3 linked regions of the Homo sapiens genome follow. The protein of the gene in region 1 purifies or fractionates together with the protein of each later gene. This does not show direct contact. Each region holds a gene or a part of one and is shown in the gene's direction. Other genes may lie near its edges.

Region 1 (7,028 bases):
AATTCAGTAGCTGGATTGAATTCTCAGAAGTCTGCAAGGTTGCACAATAGGATAGTCATCCTTTGAAATGAATGAATTCCACAGAACTGCCACTCTTGTATGAAATATGCACAATCACCCAGCAGTGAATATTTTCATTCCTTTTGCTCAACTTCAGTACAGCATTTTAATATTTTTCAAAGGCTGGAGATGCTTTTAAGTATAGGGACTCTGCAGCCAAATTCTGCAGGGGCATCTGGCTGTTACTTCTTTGTTTAAAATCAGAGGTGACTCTGGCCTCTGCTCATTCTTTCTCCAGATTTTGCAAGACATATTTCACTTTGGGCTGACCTTACAGTGTCATTTGCAGACTTGTGCTCTGGCCTCAAATTGGACTTAATCTGCTGGTTTAGTTATTGCAAAGATTGAATCAGCCCCTCACCAATTACAGTGTGGCTGCAAGTGGATTTAAGTGCAGTATCATTGTTCTGCTTGACAGAGGTCATCCCTTTAAGACACAGCAGCTTCTGTTTTCCTGACTTTTTACCATAGATGATGTGGGTGACTTCTTATGCAAGCATAGTTGTGTATCTCCGAAGAAGCTCCAAGAGAGTTTTATAAGGCTGCTTCTCTGAACTGCCCTGAGAGATATATATGCTGTGGTCTCTTAGCTTACTTTAAGGCTCAGTGAAATCTACACATTGAATCTAGTTCCTTTTGATGTCTTAGAATAGAAGGCTCATGTTTCCTAGCTGTGTGTTGACCAATGAAAAAATTCTTTGCAAAAACAGATCAAATGTAAAGATGCTATTTATTATAGGGGACTGCGTAGAGAATTCCATAGGACACTATTTGGAGGAATAGAGATTCCAGAGTCATTTAAACAAAATAATCAAGGCTGCTTATTGTCTCCATGTACCTACTTTTGCTAGATGAATGAAGGCACTTTAAGGAGTCTTTAACTGTATGTTTTCATGGAGATACTGGTAGCTACTGTGCAGATTGACATAATTACTATCTTGGCAGAATGGGTACTTTTTTTTTGCAAATGTTATTAATGATGGCCTAATCTTACTGCCTTATCTGAACTGTCACATTACATAACCAAGGCTCCAAATTAAACATGTAAAGAAGCTGGCACCAGGCTTGTGGCTTGATTTTGCACGTGAAGATGATGGTTTAAATACCAGTCCAAGCCCCTAAATGCCCCTGATAGCTACTAATAAAAGTTTGGCTCCTTCTCGTGTGGGAAAACATAAGTACTTATTTTATTTTTCATACTCTGTCCACCATCTTGGAATTTGGTCTCTTCTACAAAAGGTATGGCTACATTTGAAGCTGCCACAAATATGTTAGTTTTTTAAAAATTCTGTCTCCAGTTTTTCAGCAGTGGAGCAGGATAATAGGCTAAAAGTGCTGAGCAAAAGTCACCTTTTATGTTTTTGTAAATGCACCTGGAAACAGGAAGTAGATTATAAATAATCATAACTCTGTGAGCACTGGCGACAGAAGCTGCAACCTGGTATTTCAGAACACAGCATCTTCATTATATGATGCAGTGTTTACGTTAGCCACTGCAAAGCTTATTACTCCTCGAAATTTTTGAGGCTTCCCTGGGTTTCTGTTGCCTGCATTCAGGGTGTTAAAGTTGATTCAAGCATTTCAGATTCCTAATTGAACAGGCCTCTTAGGTCACTGCTCTTGGGTCATCATTTGACAGTATCAGTGTGTGATTTGTGGTCTCTGGAGATGTTGAAGTATTCTTTCTTAAATTCTAGGTTATAGTGGCAGCAGCTGTGCCGCTTTTCTGAGATGCCTCGTTATGGTTCATTCACAACATTACTGTTAACTTTGCTTCCTTGGCCGTGTTAGCAGCAACTCTTGAGGTTTTACATCCCTGTTTGACTCACAGATTTTGTTTCAATTTTTTGAAGCTTAGAGCAACTTAACTCATGGATTCTTAAATAGCAGTCTGTGGCTTTGGATGGGCTTCAGAAAGCCCGTGAATCCCCTTAAAATGAATCCGGTATCGTGCATGCATTTGAGAACGGGCATTGTCAGCTAAGAGGGAACAGAGCTTTTATCAGATTTTATGTGACATCAGGACCCAAAAAAGGTTAACACTGTTCTAAATCAACATCTTCATTTTATGAAGAGGAGGGAGGTCCAGTAACCCTAAGCTCTTTATCCATCTCATCCAGATTATTGGTGGCAGGGCCAGGATTAGTGCCTCAAGGTTGCCGACTTCCAGTCCAGCATATTTCCTACCACACTGCAAAATGATGATGAAAGAAAGTATGTCTAACTAGTGAAAAAGCGATTTAGGCAGCTAAATCATTGTGAACTGATAGCATGCAGTGTATTGTTAGGGCGTTCCTGCCTCAGATGCTTTCCAGCGAAGCTCACCCACGCATGCCCCTGGCTCACGCACACACTGAATAGATTCATCTTACCCACATCCCAGGCAGATAGAAAAACCACATTCCAGACCCAGGGACTTGTATTCCTGATTTAGTGGAGGTCTTGAAATGAATGAAAGCGCCTTTTATATAACCTCAAAAATTCTCTGTAGTGTTAATTGCTGTTAGGTCTGTTTCAAAAGGTATTGATGGTGCCTTTTCTTTTTAAGCAACCGCACAATGAGTTGGCATTTTGCAGGCTAATTTTGATTCATAGAAAATCATTGCATAACTGGTTCATTGAGTTAGATATCTGTGGAGGGAAGAGAGGAAGAAGCAAGGCTGCTTCCCTATTCAGAAGGATTCTATCATATTCCTACCTCTGCCACTGGGGGCTTGAGTTTTGGCTCATTCTCTGAGCCTCAGTTTCCATATCTGTAAAATGAAAGTATTGAATTAGAGACCACTGGGCAAAAGCTAGCTGTTTATTCTCTTAGTTGCTCATGTGTTGTATAATGCCTGTTTATGTGCATTTCTTTTTTTTTATTTTTGAAGGCAAATAAAGTGTTGTTGATGTCATTGAGGTGGATCACTTTCTCTCCAATTTTGCCTTAGTTCTATAAACACGCAATTGGGCTAGAGACAAAAGTAATGAAAATTATTATTTCTGTACTGCATTACGTTTTGCAAAGCACTATCACCTTCATTTTCTCATATAATCCTCCTAACACTGTGAGTCAAGTATCAGTTTCCCATGTTGTACGTAAAGATTTGGAGGCTCCGAGAGGTTAAGTGACTTGTTTAGTGCCACACAGCTGGTAGGAGGCAGGGCCAATGTGGTCTGGGTCCAAGTTCAGCATATTTTCTGTCATCTCAAAAGCCCATACCTGTGGGAGGTGCAGCATTATGTGTTTTGGTTGTACAAGAGGCACCTCTGACTTTGGTCTTACTGTTAATCCTGTCGTAGGTGTTTGATATCAGCTGCTACCAGGAATCCCTGGCACCGTGCTTTTGCCTGTCTGCTCATAGTAACATCAACCAAATCACTGAAATTATCCTGGGTGAGACCAAAGCCTATGTGTTCTTTGAGCGAAGCTATGGGGACATGCATTCCTTCGTCCGCACCTGCAAGAAGCTGAGAGAGGAGGAGGCAGCCAGACTGTTCTACCAGATTGCCTCGGCAGTGGCCCACTGCCATGACGGGGGGCTGGTGCTGCGGGACCTCAAGCTGCGGAAATTCATCTTTAAGGACGAAGAGAGGTAGGTCTCATCCTGTCCAGACCTGGGTACTGTGATGGACTGCTCCTAACAACAGCTTCCTAGAAAAGTCTTGAATGGACGTTTTTTTGCCGTCTGTGGTCCAGATGAGGGGAAGGAATCTTAGGAGGGCAAAAGGAAGTGAATATTGCAATTTTCAAGTGTTTGGGAAAACAAATAGCTACTATTCTAAAGGTGTCATCTGGTGCTCAAAGGACAGGTACCAGGATATTCTGTGACCCAATGAATATGTATGATTAGGTGTCTTGAATTCCGAAGGTGGCTGCAAACCTCTTTGACATTTTCAATGCCAGTAAAGGCAGGGCCTTGAAAATTCTACCCGCAGAACACTCAGCAGCCAGAATCAGTCATTTATAATTCATTCATCCATGCACTCATTCAGTAGCTCTTACCTAAGCTTATATTAGGTATTAGTCACAATTCTCAGTACTATTAATATCTAGATGAATTAGATAGCCAACGGACCTATAAAGGAAATGCTACCAGCTCAGAATAGAGGTCCGTGCTGGGTGGGATGAGAACTGGGGTGGTGGGGACATGTCAGTTCTCCCTAGGACTTGGAGAGTCAAGGAAGGTTTTACAGGAGGGGTGATTTTGGAGCCAAGACTCGAAAGATGACTGGATTTCAGGAAATGTGGGAAAGACCGCATTCCAGGTGAGGAAACTGCTGATGCAAATGCATGGCAGTGCAGAGGTCTTGGTTATTGGAGGAGACAGCTGGACAGGATGCAGGCAACTGGCTTATGCCGTTAACTCATTACCTTCTATTTAGCAGACTCTGCTGGGGCCCTGCTTTCTCTCCCAGCCGATTTTGATTACAAGAACTCCTTCAAGCCCTTTTTGTTCTTTTTAAGAATATGAGTTTAGAGGGACAGAGGCAACAAATCTGTATTCATTGCTCACCGTAGTTCCTGAATGAGGCCCCACATAATGTGGAGACCAGCTCATATCTTGATCTTTGCTTGTGAATGCCTTTACCTTTATTAACAAACTGAGAAGGGGCAGCTGTTGGAAGATTTAGAGTGTGGAACCACATTTACCTTTTCTCTTCCGCTCAGATGCCTCTGCCCCTGGAGCCTGGAGATGTTTCCCCTGGTTTTGCCTTCGATACCCTCTGTGATCTTGGATTGGTCCTTCGTCTGTTTCCACCCTCCCCCTACCAGCCTCATATTTCTCCTTCTGTTACCTTCTGTATGCTGTATTGGCTCTAAGGTCTTTTCAATTAATAATAAATTGGTGTATGTGCTTCTTTGAATATTCTCATTTAGAAGATGAATATATGTTGACCCCCAACGATACTGACAAAGGTATTCTCTCTACCCTTGTATGTTCCACCTTTCTTGGAGATTTAATAACTGCACCTACAAAAATAAGAGGTCATATTTGTTTACCTCTTACCATAAGGTTAAAGTTTAATTCTCTCTCCCTATTGAAGTGAATGTCATCATGTCCATTGTATAGACGAGAGCTCCAAAGTGCAACGTGGTGAAGTCCCAAAGTTACGGACAGGAAAGAGCAGAAGTAAGGCCACATTCACTAGTAAGTCAGCTCTCAAGAAATTCATTTGTCTGCCAGAGGGCATGGGGACAGCAAATGCCCTCTCTCGCAGGGATCTGTGTTTTTAAGTGTCGTCTTTGATTGTGTTTCCATAGGGAGGAACTCTCGGGCACCAACGAGTAGAAGGAATGGCCTATTCAGGGATAGGACCCCCATAGTGAATACATGTTTGTGCAAATGAGTAGAGCAGGGTGGAGGTCCCCAAGTCATAGAACATGGGAACAAAAGTGGACCCGGAGGTTGCATAGTCTGTGTGGCACTCTCTTGGTTTGCTGCCAGGAGGCAGAACTCCAGAGGTGAGAGCACGCCCCAGTGCACACAGCTAGCTAGGAGCCAGTGAAGCACAGCCAGGCCTCACCTGGGCTGTGGAGGGCTTTTACTCCCACCCAGCCTTTGCTTCTCCTTTATGAGTGTGTCATCACACGCCAAAATCCTTGATGTCCCAGGATCCAGGGAAGAAGCTTCCAACCTCAGGAGTGTGTGCCTCTGACATTCCGTCTGGAAGTTACGTTTGACTTTCGCGAAAGAGCATGACCCTGTCCAGAGATAACCAGAAAGGAGTATCCAGTGTGAATGTGAAACCGAAACAATTGCCTGGAGTAAACATGTCAAAGCAAAATCCTTTTTCATTTTCAAGAGCATTTTCCAAGGTAAAAAGAGAATGTAAAGGACTGTAGGGAGCTGGCCTATATAGTCCCTACAGCATGGTGGCATGTGTGATAGCCCCTTTGGCCATGCAGCCGTGTTGCCCCAGGGGCCAGCCTTGAGGCTGATGCCCTGTAGGACCTTGGAGAAAATGAGAACTCCTCCATCTGATCAGTGAGGTTACTTGGCCTCATGGCAGGGTCACCTAGCTGGCTTAATGTTACACAGCCAGTCTGAGGGTGCAGCCAGCCTGGAAATCCTGTCATTCCATCGAGAGCTCTTCTTCCAGCCCAAGTCACATGGAGGTCCCAGTGGGCTTGCTTTTCAGGAACATGACAAGTGTCTGTCTGGGCAGCTCTGAGAAGGTCACCTCTGTTTTCAAGGACATTTTGAATGTTCTCAGCAGTAGCTGATTGATAAAGAGCTTTTTTGTTTTTCTAAAATCCAACTATCAACTTTTTGTGAAAGGGGAATCATGCCTAGTCACCTTTTTCTTCTTGTTGTTTTGTATTTTAACCTCTCGATTCCAGAATGTGAAACTTCTGCTTTTTGTTCCACAATGTATTTCTCCTTCTCTGCCTCCTGGCAGCATTGAGTTTCATGGCAGATTCTCTTTTATTTGGCCTGCATGGTGGCCTACATGGAGCACATTGCCAGCACTTCCTGAGGGAAGAGTGTGAGGCCAAGTGTCAGGGGCCCAGGACCTCATTGGCTCCATGCTTGCTGCTGGGAACTCTCATCTTCCACCCTAATTGCATCACTTTTAGTGGAGCTAAAGCTTCCTTCTCCCTCAACAACATCGAAAGTGTAAGGAAGCAATGGGTTAAATTTTAAAGGCTTTTGGAAAGCTAAACCACAGAGTTAATGTCTGTTTTCTCACCTTTTGGGCATTGGTCCCACGGTGAAAAAGCAAAGAAGCAAATTTGGGAAGTGCTGCTTTATTCATCTTCTGACCATCACACACCTCTTTTGCGCATCAGTCTTCTTCTCAGTGATGTGCTTCTTGAACTCTGGTGATCTGGAAAGCAATCGAAAGTGCAGGCTTTACGTGTGAAATTGGCTGAGGCCCACCTGGTGCAGAAGAAGACCTGCCTATGGGCTGACTCCTTGTGCCTAAAGTTTCGATTGTGTGCCATCTGGGACTCTGCATCCATGGCCATCCATGGAAAC
Region 2 (7,028 bases), on another chromosome or scaffold:
GCTGTCCTGTGCAGTTTCTTGCCTTGCTGCTTAATCACTTGACTAATGACATTTTTGACAAAGAATACAGCTAGTTTCCTACAGCTGAATTACGTATTTCAGCTGTTGATATAAATCACTCTTTTAACAGTTGAAATGTTTCAAAATGTGAAAGAAAAATGCAATTTATGTCCCCAGAAACACGATTTTTCAAAAGTATACTTGTATGTTGAAATTAAAAACAAATTCTGTGAAATTGAATTTGTCATGCAGTAAATTTTTATAAATCTCTTGTTTTAATTATTACTGCTGACAGTGGATGGCAGAAATGAACGTTGTATAGCAGTAGTAAGACTTAAAGTTTGTTTTTGAATTTAATTGCATAAGCAACATTTCAGTTAATTAGTTTACCTTTTATTTAGTCTCAGCCTAACTAGTCACTGTTTAACTTTTGAAGTACTTTTGCTTGGGTTATCAGATTTCATAATAAAAGTAGTTGAAATATCATACTGTTAATATAAGAGGTCATCTGTTTTGTATTAGTTCTAGAAAGCTTTCTGCACCTGAAAATTACAGTGTTCATTTCAGTTAGTTCATGATCTGTTTTTAGAATCTCATTATGTTCATGTTTGAGAATATATATGATTAAATATGTCAGAGATAGGGAGCAAATGTTTCAGTATCTAGAAGTCCTTAAATCCTGAGTCTTAGTGATGTGGAAGTTCTTCCACTAAAAAAGGTGGTTTGAGGGGGGGGACCTGTTTGTCTTTCTTTCCCTTTTAATCAAAATTTTCTAGAAATAATATTATTCTTTATACTTTTTGATTAATATTTCTATTAAAATCTATTTTTACAGTATAAAAGGATCTTGTTACCCCCAAAATATTTTTAAAAACATACTCTACAGGTTCTTGATACCTTAATATATTAAAAACAAAACATAACCAAAATGTAAGAAAATAATAGCAATGAAATCAAAACAAAAAGTTAACTTTTTAATATGAGAGTTAAGAGTTAGCTAATGTCACTAAATAATAACATGTAGAAAAAAGAGAGAGAGCTGTCTTGAATAACAGGATACCAGCAGAAGAAATAATAGACATATTTAGGTCATCATCTTAATTCTTTTTTTTTTTTTTTTTTTTTTTTTGAGACGGAGTCTCGCTCTGTTGCCCAGGCCGGACTGCGGACTGCAATGGCGCAATCTCGGCTCACTGCAAGCTCCGCTTCCTGGGTTCACGCCATTCTCCTGCCTCAGCCTCCCGAGTAGCTGGGACTACAGGCGCCCGCCACCGCGCCTGGCTAATTTTTTGTATTTTCAGTAGAGACGGGGTTTCACCTTGTTAGCCAGGATGGTCTCGATCTCCTGACCTCATGATCCACCCGCCTCGGCCTCCCAAAGTGCTGGGATTACAGGCGTGAGCCACCGCGCCCGGCCCTTAATTCTTTTGACAGCATTTTTACTTATGTGTCAGTTTTCTCCCTGTAATGTATTTAAGCTATTATTTTGATAGGTTAGTGTTTAAACGTATTATATATGTTAAAACTAATAGTTTAGTAATGGCATACTTTTACTGGCACAACATTGGAATGGTGTTGATTAGCTATGTATATGAGTAGGCGGAGAAAAAGTATTTAGTGATAACTAGTTCACTTGAAGTCTCAGCTATACCAAAACCTCCTAAATTAAAAACAGGATTTCAGTTCTGATAATAACTCTGTCCTTTACCAGATAAAGTAGTATTTCTCCTTCAGTGACATGAGACTATGGGTATAAATTGAGTTGGGATAGATGAATAGTTGTCATCATTATAGTTATGGTGCATTAAAATCCACATGGCAGCAAGTAGTAGCTGAGGCAGCAGTTCAATTGAGGTTGTACAAATAAATCTACTGCATTGCTATAGTATCATACTTTACTGGAGGGAACATTTGCTGAATTGTGCCCTAGTCAGTGACACTTAACTGAATAAATTTTTTTTTTAAATTGGCTGGGCACCATGTCTGACGCCTGAAATCTGTAATCCCAGCACTTTGGGAGGCTGAGGTGGGAGGATTGCTTGAGCCCTGGAGTTCAAGACCAGCCCAGGCGACATAGTGAGACCCCATCTCTGTAAAAAAAAAAAAAAAAAAGAATTTTAATTCTTTAAAAAATTATATAAAATTAAGGAAGCATTTAAAGCTGTAAAGAAAAGTGGGCGTATCAATGTGTGTCTTTAAGGGAAATAGTCCTTGTTGTTGTTGTAGTTGTTTTTTAAGACAGGGTCTTGCTGTGTCACCCAGGCTGGAGTGCAGTGGCACAGTCATGGCTTACTGCAGCTTCAAATTCCTGGGTTCAAGCAGTCCTCCCACCTCAGCCTCCCAAGTCTCTGGAGACAAGAACCCATCACTATGCCTCACTAATTGTTTCATTTTTTTGTAGCGATCGGGTCTCACTATGTTGCCAGGCTGGTCTCAAACTCCTGGACTCAAGGGATCCTCCCACCTCGGTCTCTCAGAGTGCTGGGATTGCAGGCATGAGCCACCGAACCCAGCCTGAAATATTCTTAATGTGTCTTTTTCTTACTTACCATCATCAGTTCAGCAAGCTTCTTAATAAATCATTAATCATTAACTGTTCTGTGAATGGATATTAAGAAAATGGATGTTTGTATTTTTGTATGTAGGTGTTTGTATTTTGTGCATTAAATGAATGCTTAATAGATACAGAGCACTAGCTAGGCATTTTGAGAGAAGAAACACACATACATAGATATTGAAGATACATTCATACACATAGATTTTAAACCTTTAAACCTTTAGCCTTTACACTTTGAGTTTTACATTAAGAGCTTTGATCTGTAATAAAGCATAGTAATTATTAGCACCAGCTCTGAAACCAGACTACCTTGTGTTTGAATCCCACCTCAGCCACTTACAGATTGACTAACTTTGGGCAATTTACCTCACCTCTAATCTTCATTTTCTCATCTGTAAAATGTAGATAATAATAATACATATATCACAGGTTGTTATGAGGACTAAATGAGGTAATACATGCAAAATGTTTTAGTAAGTGAATGATTAATGAATATTAGGTATTATTGTGTAATTAATTGTAGATCAGTGAGAATTCTTATCGCTAAACCTCTAGAAAAGATGCTTAAATCATATTGAGGAATAATGTATGTGATGATTCATTTCAACTTTTACTACCTTTGGGCTAATTAGATTTCCAGCTGGTTATGTAACAACTGTGTTTAGGCTGCAAGTTCTGTAAAAGCGAGTATGATCTTGTACTTGCTTTCAAATAGCTTGTTTTGGAGCTTATATAAAAATGATCAGCAAGAGAGGAGTGAATAACGCTGAAGGAAAGGAGATTATTTATTTATTTATTTATTTAACCTCTTTTGTGATATGAGGAATGTGTATTGGGGTTTTATAATTCAGAGAGATATTTGGGGAGGGGGATTAGGTATGGATTTGGGGAAAAGTAATGATAATTCAGTGGTTCTGTTATATGTATTCCATCCCCTTGTCATCACCCAATTGCTTCAGTAATTCAAATTATATACTAATTTATTTATTAAAAATAAAATTTAATATTGTGAAATTCTACTACCTCCACAAAATGGCAGGGAAATAAGTAGAATGTATGGAAAAATTAGTTGATAATTGTCTTTTGGCATACTTTTAGTATATCAAATGATTCACGCCATTAAATCTTTCTCAGTAAGCTGTAATATGGTTATTAGAACTGAATGAAAAGCATGTCAGGTGTCTTGGAACAAAAGTACACCTGTGCACAATTGTGTAGATATACAAATGTATATATTAAAAGTTTTATATTACACAAATCTCAACAACTTTTAATTTGATATGTGTTGATTACTTAATCTGGATATGAGGTCTAGTACAATTTGAAGGTATTTAAAGTAGATCTTTTATCCTTGTAGACCGAATTACTTTAGAAATAGAAAATAGCAAATTCTGAAATGTTGTCATTACATACTTTTTCCCCTTAGTATTGAATTTGACCGGGATTGTGACTATTTTGCGATTGCTGGAGTTACAAAGAAGATTAAAGTCTATGAATATGACACTGTCATCCAGGATGCAGTGGATATTCATTACCCTGAGAATGAAATGACCTGCAATTCGAAAATCAGGTATTTACATTATTTTCTTGACATGATGCAGTATAGATGTAACAATTTGCATATGTAATTATCATGAGATTATTTTACCTTTGCATGACACTTTTTACTCATGGTGAACACTATTATTGTACTATGTATACAGAGTATATATTATTACTTATATCATCTTTCTTACAGATATTGGTTGCTTTTTTCTTGTGAGGTTAGCCTTTTTTTTTTTTCTGGTTGCCAAATTAAAGTTCTTCTTTCACTTAATCAAATAAAGGTCTTTGTTGGACATGGTTGTTGGAGACTCTATGGAGTACTGAATGAGGATTAATGTAGCTTATGAATAGTATTTGAACATCAGGAATTTTTCCCCTAGCCTGCACATATCTCAACATATTAGAATTGTTTCTAGTTTTAAGAATTTTTTTTACAAGAATATTCTGCTTTTCACTGAAGGAATGGTGTTTATGTTTTCTGTATTAGAGATTATACTTTATAAGCAGTGCTTTTCAAACCTAAAATACTCTTAAACACTAACAGTATGTTAAGACTCTACTCCTGATCTGCTCCCCAAAAAATCTCAGAAGAATTCTAGAATCTGCTTTTTTTTTTTTTTTTTTCCTTCTAAACAAGCTTCCCAAGCTGTTCTCATGAGCACTGGCTTTAAAAGAGAATTATATGAGGAAATCATCTAATAATAACTTTGTATAGAACTTTGAACATTTTCAAAATAGCCATCCTTGAACCTTTTTTATCTTTAATGAATGGCATACATAGTATGTTTGTTACAGTCTTTGTATAATTTATTTGTTATAACTTTCTTTTTTCTAGTTCATTTATAAAAATACTATATCGATAATTGGTGAGCTTCCCCATTCATTTGTGGCACTCATCATTGAGAATCTGTTATAGTTTATGTCCTAAGTGAAGAGGATATAACATGAATTAGATACAAGTTTATTGAATTCTTATATATCAGGCATTATCCTAAGTGCTTGGTCTTTAGCAGACCTATGAAATAGTTACCATTATTGCTCCATTTTATACAAAGAAAGCTGAGCACAGGAAGGTAAATAACCTGCCTAAGATTATACACCTGCTATATAGAGGAGCCAGGATTCAGACTGAAGTAGTTTGGTTCTAGAGTCTGTGCCCTTAAACATTTCCTGCTCCTTATTTATAAAATGGAGGTCACAATAGTAATACTTATTTAATAGGATTGTACTTTTAAAAAATCCCCATAATGCACTCAGAACAACACTTGGCCCATGGCAAGTACTCATAATATATTACATAATGAAAACGTGGATTAGAAAGTTTAAATGTGCTGTCTACCTGTTCTGTATTTGTATGTGTAAAAATGTGCAATACTTCCTGATATATTGGAATAAATGGTGAAAGCGCTCAAGGCTGAAAGCTGTGGGCCTGGGGCTGAAAGGATCAATACCTAAGGATGCCTAAAATAGATTCGGAGCACATCTACTGTGAAAGTGTACTAAATTAGCCAGAGCCACAGCTAATAAGTAACAGATCTGGAATTTGAACTCAAGTCTACCTAAATTCAAAATGTGTCTCTTAATTGTTCCAGATAATTTCTACCAGAAATTCTAATTAAGTATATTTAAAAATGCAAATAAACTCTTCCAGTCTCTGGAATTTAGCATCAATGCAACTAGTAGAAAGCAAAAGACCTTGTGTTCATGTCTTAGAAGTTACCTACATTAACTGCCTTCTAAGTAACTTCTTCCATAATATGCATTCCCTTTACTATATGCGTGATGCAGATATGTATCTCAGCAGAAGTTTTTAGATGTTGTAGACTTCTGGAGTACTTGAGAATAGCCAAAACCATAAATGATAAAAGTTTGATTCTAACTTTTAGATGCTTTTAATTGGAATTTTAGTCATAAGTTATAATTAGTCAAGTCAAGACTTTTGGGATGTAAATACAGAAACCCAATTCACTGTAGTTTATTTGGCTTATATGATTTGGCACAACTGGATCCAGGGGGTTAAACAGTCTCATCAGGTCTGTCATTCTGCCATGGTATGCCTTGAGCCCTCTGGATAGTATCACCTTCACTGATAGACATCGTTTCCTCATGTATCAAAGATGGCCAGTGATAGCTCTAGGCTCACATCCATCTTAACAGCTAGTGATCACAGTAAAAGGTGGTTAGGGTCATTACTTGTTAATTTTTATTTTTAAAATTTCAAAATTATTGGTATGTCTTTTCCCAGGTATGTTGTGGGCAGAATAATGATTGTGAACTGATAGAGACCATTTTAAAATAGTGCAAATCTTTCTGAACACATTAAAATTATTTTTATCCCATTGTTATTTATTTTTATGTAAAGTAACTTTTAACTGTATTTCTTTCAGCTGTATCAGTTGGAGTAGTTACCATAAGAACCTGTTAGCTAGCAGTGATTATGAAGGCACTGTTATTTTATGGGATGGATTCACAGGACAGAGGTCAAAGGTCTATCAGGTAAATAAGGGTACTAGTTACATGTTATATGAATCATACATTTGGTTTGTTAAAACTTTTAGAACTTCATGTGCCTTATAATTACAGATTTGAAGTCACTATTTAGTATTTTTTATACCTGTGTAACACCTATGCAATACCAAATGCTTTTTTTTCCTGTCTCCCACTTTTGGTACCATATGCTTTTCCAAAGCATTTCTTCAGACTTCGGTCTTTATGGAATGTATCAGGTAAATTTCTAAAAGCAATAATTTTGGTAAATGTATAAAAAGTTTTGGAAGTACTTTATATCAACATCTTATTTGCTTTTCATTTGTTTTCTAGCCTGTTGTCTTTCCCTCTCCCCGTAACAATAAATTGATATCAGGTTTTTTTTTTTCTTGCTTTATTCATTTTGAGATCTGTATTCTATCTGAGGCTACTGTCTTCT
Region 3 (7,028 bases), on another chromosome or scaffold:
GCCTCCCGGGTTCAAGCAGTTCTCCTGCCTCAGCCTCCTGTGTAGCTGGAGTCCCCGCCACCATGCCCAGCTAATTTTTGTATTTTTAGTAGAGATGGAGTTTCACTATGTTGGCCAGGCTGGTCTCGAACTCCTGACCTTGTGACCTCCCTGCCTCAGCCTCCCAAAGTGCTGGTATTACAGGCGTGAGCCACTGCACCCGGCCAGTTTGTTCCTCTTTTACTTTGTTTAGTGTATTCTTATTCTTCAAGGCTCATACCAATTGTTGCTCCATTAATTATTTTAACATATTTATGAGCGCTTAACTGTCCCTTCTCCTAGGTGCTGGGAATACAGCAAGGAATTAGACCAGTTCCCTGCTCTCTGGTATGGTGGGACAGATACTAAAAAGGTAAACAACTTAATTTCAGGAAGAGATAAAGACCATTAATAATATAGGGTGTATCAGTAAATTCATGTGGGCAGACGTAAGGTGCCTGGGGAAGATTTCTGAGGAGGTACTATTTTAGCTGAGACTTGAATGATGAAACAGAGGCAGATCTTTCAGCACTTAAATAATGTTGTTCCACTTCTTTCTAACTTCCATGGTTTCTGATGAGAAATCTACAGACATTTGAATTGTTGCACCTCTATAGGTGATACGTGGTTTCTATCTGGTTACTTTAGAGGTTTTTACTGTATATCTTTTAGTTTTTTCCATTTTAGCTATGATGTGCCTGGGCATGGATTTCTTTGGATTTATCATATTTGAGGGTCTCTGAACTTCCTGAATTTGGGGGGTCTCTGAACCTTTTGAATTGGAGTTTATATCTTTAGCCAAATTTGGGAAATTTCCTTCCTCCTTCCCTTGCTTCCTTCCTCTCTCCCTTCCTTTCTTCTTTCCTTCCTTTCTTTCATCTTTCTTTTTTTCCCCTTCCTTCCTTTCTTTCTTTCTTTTTTTCTTTCTTTTGACAGAGTCTCACTGCATTGCCCAGGCTGGAGTGCAGTGGCATGATCTCAGCTCACTTCAGCCTCTGCTTCCCAGGCTCAAGTGATCCTCCCACCTCAGCCTCCTGAGTAGCTGTGACTACAAGTGCACACCACTGTGCCCGGCTACTTTTTGTATTTTTAGTAGAGATGGGGTTTTGCCATGATGCCCAGGCTGGTCTTGAACTCCTGGGCTCAAGCAATTTGCCCATCTCAGCCTCCCAAAGTTCTGGGATTATGGATGTGTGCCACCACCACCAACTATTACAGCCATTATTTCTTAATTTTTTTTTTTTTTCTTAGCATTCTACTCCTCAAGATCAGGGTGTTACAACTTTTGATATTTTCCCTAGGGCCCTGAGGCTTTACTGACTTTTTTTCAGTCTTTTTATTTTTTCCCTCTTTTGTTCACATTGGGTAATGTATACTAATCTATCTTCAGGGTGACTGACTCATTTCTCTGATGACTTCATTCTGCCCTTGAGCCCATCAGTGAGTTTTTTATTCTTTTTCAGAATTGTTTTTAAATTTTTAAAAGATATTTTACTAGAGTCTATGGAAGCTAGAAGAGTTTTGTATGCTGGTTATTGCTTTTTCAGCTCTAAACTTCTTATCTGGATCTTTAAGAAATATCTTCTGTTTCTTAGCTGAGACTTTGTTTTTCCATCATTTCAAGAGTGTTTGTGATTACTTATTGGAACATTTTTATAATAGGTACTTCAAAATCTGTCTCAGAGAATTCCAACTTTTGTAGCATCTCAACATTGGTGTCTGTCAATTGTCTTTTCTAGATTGAGTTTTTTCCTAGTACTTCATATGCTGAATGATTTTGGATTGTTTCCTAGACATTTTGAATATTATAAGATGATAGGGCTTGTTTAAATCCTAAGAGGATGTTGGTGATTTTTGGCTTGGTAGGCAATCTACCTAATTAGCTTCAGGGAATTTGCAATTTGTAACTCTCTTTAGGCTATGGTTCTAATGGCAGATGAATTTTCAGAAAGTCTTTGCAGTGCTATTTGGATCTGTCCCATGTATGTGACATTCAGTGGCCAGTCTGCAATCTGGGTGTTGATTATTTCAGTTCTCAAAGCCTTTAGTATGATTTGGACCAGATCCACACGTGTGCAGCTTGGGAGTTCATGAACAACTTCATGATGTTACTTTTCTGAGCTCCTCCCCATCTGATATCTCCCCAGTACCTTCTGGTTCCACTGGGGTCTCCCTTTTGATCCTCTGATGACAAAATTGGGGCTTTAATTATCCTTCCTTGCAACACACTTGCTCTTCAAGCAGCAGGAGAACCAGGGGAGACAATGTTAACCTCACTGCCCATTCAGTGGTACTTTATTGTTAGCCAATTGGTTTTTCTCATATGCCTGTCTTATGCATTCTGTCTAGGTTTTATAGCTGCATTTTTAGTGGGAGAGAGAAGGTGGTGTTTGATTATTCCATCTTATCTGGCAACAGCTTTATAACTTAAGTTTTTCACTAAATGCCGTTGACTTTTATGGCCTGTGATTTAACTTTGATTTGAATCAAGGTATAATAAAACAATTAGAAGACTTTGCCATATAATAGATGCCCCATAAATATTAAAACATATTTTTATTGTGATTTTAAAATAGCCTAACATTTACCGTCTTAACTGATTGTAAGTGTACAGTTCAGTAGTATTAAGTATATTCACATTGTGAAATTGATCTCGAGAAGTTTTTCATCTTGAAAATCTGAAAAGTCTAACCCATTCAACAGCACCTTCTCTTTCCCCTCCTGCTAGTCCCTGGTGACCACCATTCTTCTTTGTTTCTGTGAATTTGATTCCTTTTTCTTTTTTTAATGATAAGTATTTTACATTAATTTTTTTTTTTTTTTTTTTTTTTTAGAGATTGGGTCTTGCTCTGTTGCCCAAGCTAGACTCAAACTCCTGGGCTCAAGTGGTCCACCTCAGCCTCCCAAGTAGCTGGGATTACAGGTGTGTGCTATGGCACCTGGCTGTTAAATTTGATTACGTTTGATACTTCATTTAAGTGGAATCATACAGTATTTGTCTGTTTGTGATTGGCTTATTTGACTTCACATAATGTCCTCAAGTTTCAGTGATGTAGCATATGTCAGAATTTTCTTCCTTTTGAAGGCCGAGTAATATTCCTTTGTGTGTATATACCATATTTTGTTTATCCACTCATCCATCAGTGAACTTTTGGGTTGCTTCCATCTCTTGACTACTATGAATAGCGCTGATATGAACATGGGTGTGCAAATATCTCTTAGAAATCCTGCTTTCAGTTATTTTGGATTTATACCCAGAAGTAGAATTGTTGGATCTTATGGTAGTTCTAATTTTCTTCAAGGAACCTTCATACTGTTTTCCTTAGTAGCTGTACTATTTTTCAGTTCCACCAACAATGCACAAGGGTTCAACTTCCTCTATGTCCTCAATGAAACTTGTCATTTTCTTTTTTTAAAAAAAGCAGTCGTTCTAATGGGTGTGAGGTGATATCCCATTGTAGTTTTGATTTACATTTCTCTGATGATTAGTGATGTTGAGCATCTATCTTTTCATATGCTTTGTGGCCATTTGTATAGGAGAAATGTCTGTTCCAGTACTTTGACCATTTTAAAATTGGGTATATGATTTTTTGTTATTGAGTTATAGGAGTTCTTTATATGTTCTAGATATTAACCCTTTATCCAATATATGATTTGCAAATATTTTCTTCCATTCTGTAGAAAGCCCTTTCACTCGGTTGATTGTGTCCTTTGATCACAGAAGTTTTAAGTTTGATGTATTCCCATTTGTCTATTTTTGTCTTGGTCGCCTATGCCTTTTGTGTCTTATCCAAGAAATCACTGCCAGATCTGATGTCATGAAGCTTTCCTCCTGTATTTTCTTCTAGTAGTTTTATAGTTATGGGTCTTATATTTAGATTCTTTTCCTATTTTGGGTTAATTTTTGTATAGGGTGTAAGATAGGGTCTGACTTCATTCTTTTGCATGTGGCTATTCAGTTTTCCCAACACCATTTGTTGAAGTGACTGTCCTTTTTCTATTGAGTAGTAGTAGGACCTTATCAAAGATTGTTTAACCATATATGCCAGAGTTTATCTGTGGGCCATTTCATTGGTCTGTGTCTGTCTTTATCCAGTACCACAATTTTTTGATTACTGTGGTTTGTAATATATTTTGAAATCAAGAGGCTTGAATCCTCTTTGTTCTTTTTCAAAATTATTTTGTGTATTTGGAGGCCCTTGAGATACCATATGAATTTTAGGATGAATTTTTTATCTTTGTGAAAAGTGCTATTAGGATTTTGATAGGGTTTGTATTGAATCTGTAGATTATTTTGGGTAATATGGATATCTTAACAGCCCAATAAATATTTTTTGCTGGAATGAATGCACATTGAATATGATTTTTTTGTTTGTTTGTTTGAGATAGAGTCTCACTCTGTTGCCCAGGCTGGAGTGCAGTGTTGTGACCACGGCTTATTGCAGCTTCGATGATCCAAGCTTAAACAATCCTTCCACTTCAGCCTCTCAAGTAGCTGGAACTACAGTCATGTGCCACCATGCCTAGCTAATTTTTATATTTTTTTGTAGAGACAGGGTTTTGCCATGTTTTCCAGGCTGGGCTTGAACTAGTGAGCTCAGGTGATCCACTTGCTTCGGCCTCCCAAAGTGTTGGGATTACAGGTGTGAGCCACTGCGCCCAGCCGAATGTGTCTTATACTGTTCAAATTTGTAGTTGTAGGTTTTTTTCTGTTGAACTTTCCCAACAGCTGAGCATACTTGGAAGGTATTCCTAGTGAACTAGATCCTTCCCTTAGACCTGTTTCTAGACTTAGAAATGTTAGGACCACTTACTCAGTATAATCTGGGAAGTAGTAATGCCAGTCACTGTCATCTTGGGAGCTCCTAGGTTCAGGATATAAGAAGAGAAATCTGTTTCACTTGTATATATTTATATTTTGGTAAATTCTGTTTCACTTTCTTGACTTCTGCTTTACTTTTCTGTTTAGAGATGTGATAATGGATCATCATGTTTCTACCATCAAGCCTCGAAGAATCCAAAACCAAAATGTCATTCACCGCTTGGAACGCCGGCGGATCAGTTCAGGCAAGGCAGGTACCCACTGGCACCAAGTCCGAGTGTTCCATCAGAATGTCTTCCCCAACTTCACAGTTGTCAACGTTGAAAAGCCTCCTTGTTTCTTGCGTAAATTCTCACCTGATGGACGCTACTTTATTGCTTTTTCTTCAGACCAGACATCTCTTGAAATCTATGAGTACCAGGGCTGCCAGGCAGCAGAGGACCTACTGCAGGGATACGAAGGAGAAATCCTGTCCAATGGCAATGACCAGCGGTCAGTGAATATCCGGGGCCGGCTCTTTGAACGCTTTTTTGTCCTGCTGCACATTACCAATGTTGCGGCCAATGGTGAGCACCTGAACCGGGAGTGTAGTCTCTTCACTGATGACTGCCGCTGTGTCATCGTGGGCTCAGCTGCCTACCTCCCAGATGAGCCTCACCCTCCATTTTTTGAGGTATATCGGAACAGTGAATCAGTGACCCCCAACCCACGGTCCCCTCTAGAAGACTATTCCCTCCATATCATTGACCTTCACACCGGCCGCTTATGTGATACACGCACGTTCAAGTGTGACAAGGTGGTCTTGTCACACAACCAAGGGCTGTACTTGTACAAAAACATCCTGGCCATCTTGTCTGTGCAACAACAGACCATCCATGTCTTCCAGGTGACTCCTGAAGGCACTTTCATTGATGTGCGGACCATTGGCCGCTTTTGCTATGAGGATGACCTGCTCACTGTGTCAGCTGTTTTCCCTGAGGTACAGCGGGACAGTCAGACAGGCATGGCCAATCCCTTTAGGGATCCTTTCATCAATTCCCTCAAACACCGGTTGCTGGTATATTTGTGGCGCCGGGCAGAACAGGATGGTAGTGCAATGGCCAAGAGGCGCTTCTTCCAGTATTTTGACCAACTGCGGCAGCTGCGAATGTGGAAAATGCAGCTTCTGGATGAAAACCACCTGTTTATCAAGTACACTAGTGAGGATGTAGTAACACTGCGAGTCACAGATCCATCACAGGTATGAGGTACACTCCTGCCTTTTACTTGTCTAATCTCCTTGGCAAAATGGGAAGGTTTCTCTGTTTGTTTATAGCCCACCCCTCAGAAATAGACATTTCACGTAGTCTGAATTGATATCCTAGGGCCCAAACTTAAAATCAGCTCCATTTTTCTCTGGTCATATGTATTTATCTGGACAAATGGAAGCTAAAGTTCAAGTCATTGACAGGAAGATAGTCACCTCTGATTACTACCCTAACTCTTCTGCAGAGTATTTTCAGTACTCATGAGATGGAAGCCCAAATGCTACAAGGTCAAGGTTTGGACTACTTATGGATAACCTCCCTTGATTTTGTAAGACTGTATTATTGGTCTGGCTGTTTTAGTTCTGGCAATGAGAATGAGTACACCATACCAAAAAGAAAATTCTCTAAGTAACCCCACTTTCATCCTTAAATGGTTAATGTCAATTTACTTCTCTGTAAAGTACTATAAAGTCCTATTTATAAGGTAACTAATAAGTGCATTCATTTGGCAGAATTAAGTTTTGTGACTTTACCCTGACCTTGCCCACATGCTGGGACATAGGTTGTAGAGCAGTGAAGAGGTCAAAAGGAAGCTGAAATTTATGATCCGTGAGGAGAGTCATCAGGACAGCAAATCTTAAAGGTTTTTCAGTTTGGGGGAAGAATGCCTTTCTTTCAGTAGGGGGAAGAAGCATTTCCCAAAAGGGAATAAGGTGATATAAAGAGCACAGAACTGCTAAGATTTGGGGATTGAAAAACTATGTTGAAATTAAGGGTAATTTGGGCATTTGTCTTTGAAAACCTCTCCACTTCAGTGTTGACCAAGTTAGACAACTACCTTTCTACACCTATGTCTCCCCATTCTCCTGTTTGCAGATTGTCTCCTTAGACACTAGTTTGGAAATTCAGAACAACCAGCAAATCAGTAAACCACGAAGTCA

What was found. Proteins that work in one complex are often made in the same cells at the same time.
Region 2: the proteins of TRIB2 (region 1) and COP1 purify together in Homo sapiens (affinity purification with mass spectrometry; 5 studies listed by BioGRID and IntAct, with this or other methods). This does not show direct contact.
Region 3: the proteins of TRIB2 (region 1) and DET1 purify together in Homo sapiens (affinity purification with mass spectrometry; 3 studies listed by BioGRID and IntAct, with this or other methods). This does not show direct contact.

The regions. Positions count from the first base shown.
Region 1 is NC_000002.12:12,719,915-12,726,942, forward strand, and holds part of TRIB2 (tribbles homolog 2), read left to right. Parts: intron 1-3,345; coding exon 3,346-3,638; intron 3,639-7,028.
Region 2 is NC_000001.11:176,043,280-176,050,307, reverse strand, and holds part of COP1 (E3 ubiquitin-protein ligase COP1), read left to right. Parts: intron 1-3,983; coding exon 3,984-4,127; intron 4,128-6,489; coding exon 6,490-6,598; intron 6,599-7,028. UniProt on the Homo sapiens protein: E3 ubiquitin-protein ligase that mediates ubiquitination and subsequent proteasomal degradation of target proteins.
Region 3 is NC_000015.10:88,529,675-88,536,702, reverse strand, and holds part of DET1 (DET1 homolog), read left to right. Parts: intron 1-321; exon of another isoform or gene 322-368; coding exon of another isoform or gene 369-391; intron 392-4,987; coding exon of another isoform or gene 4,988-4,997; coding exon 4,998-6,080; intron 6,081-7,028. UniProt on the Homo sapiens protein: Component of the E3 ubiquitin ligase DCX DET1-COP1 complex, which is required for ubiquitination and subsequent degradation of target proteins. The complex is involved in JUN ubiquitination and degradation.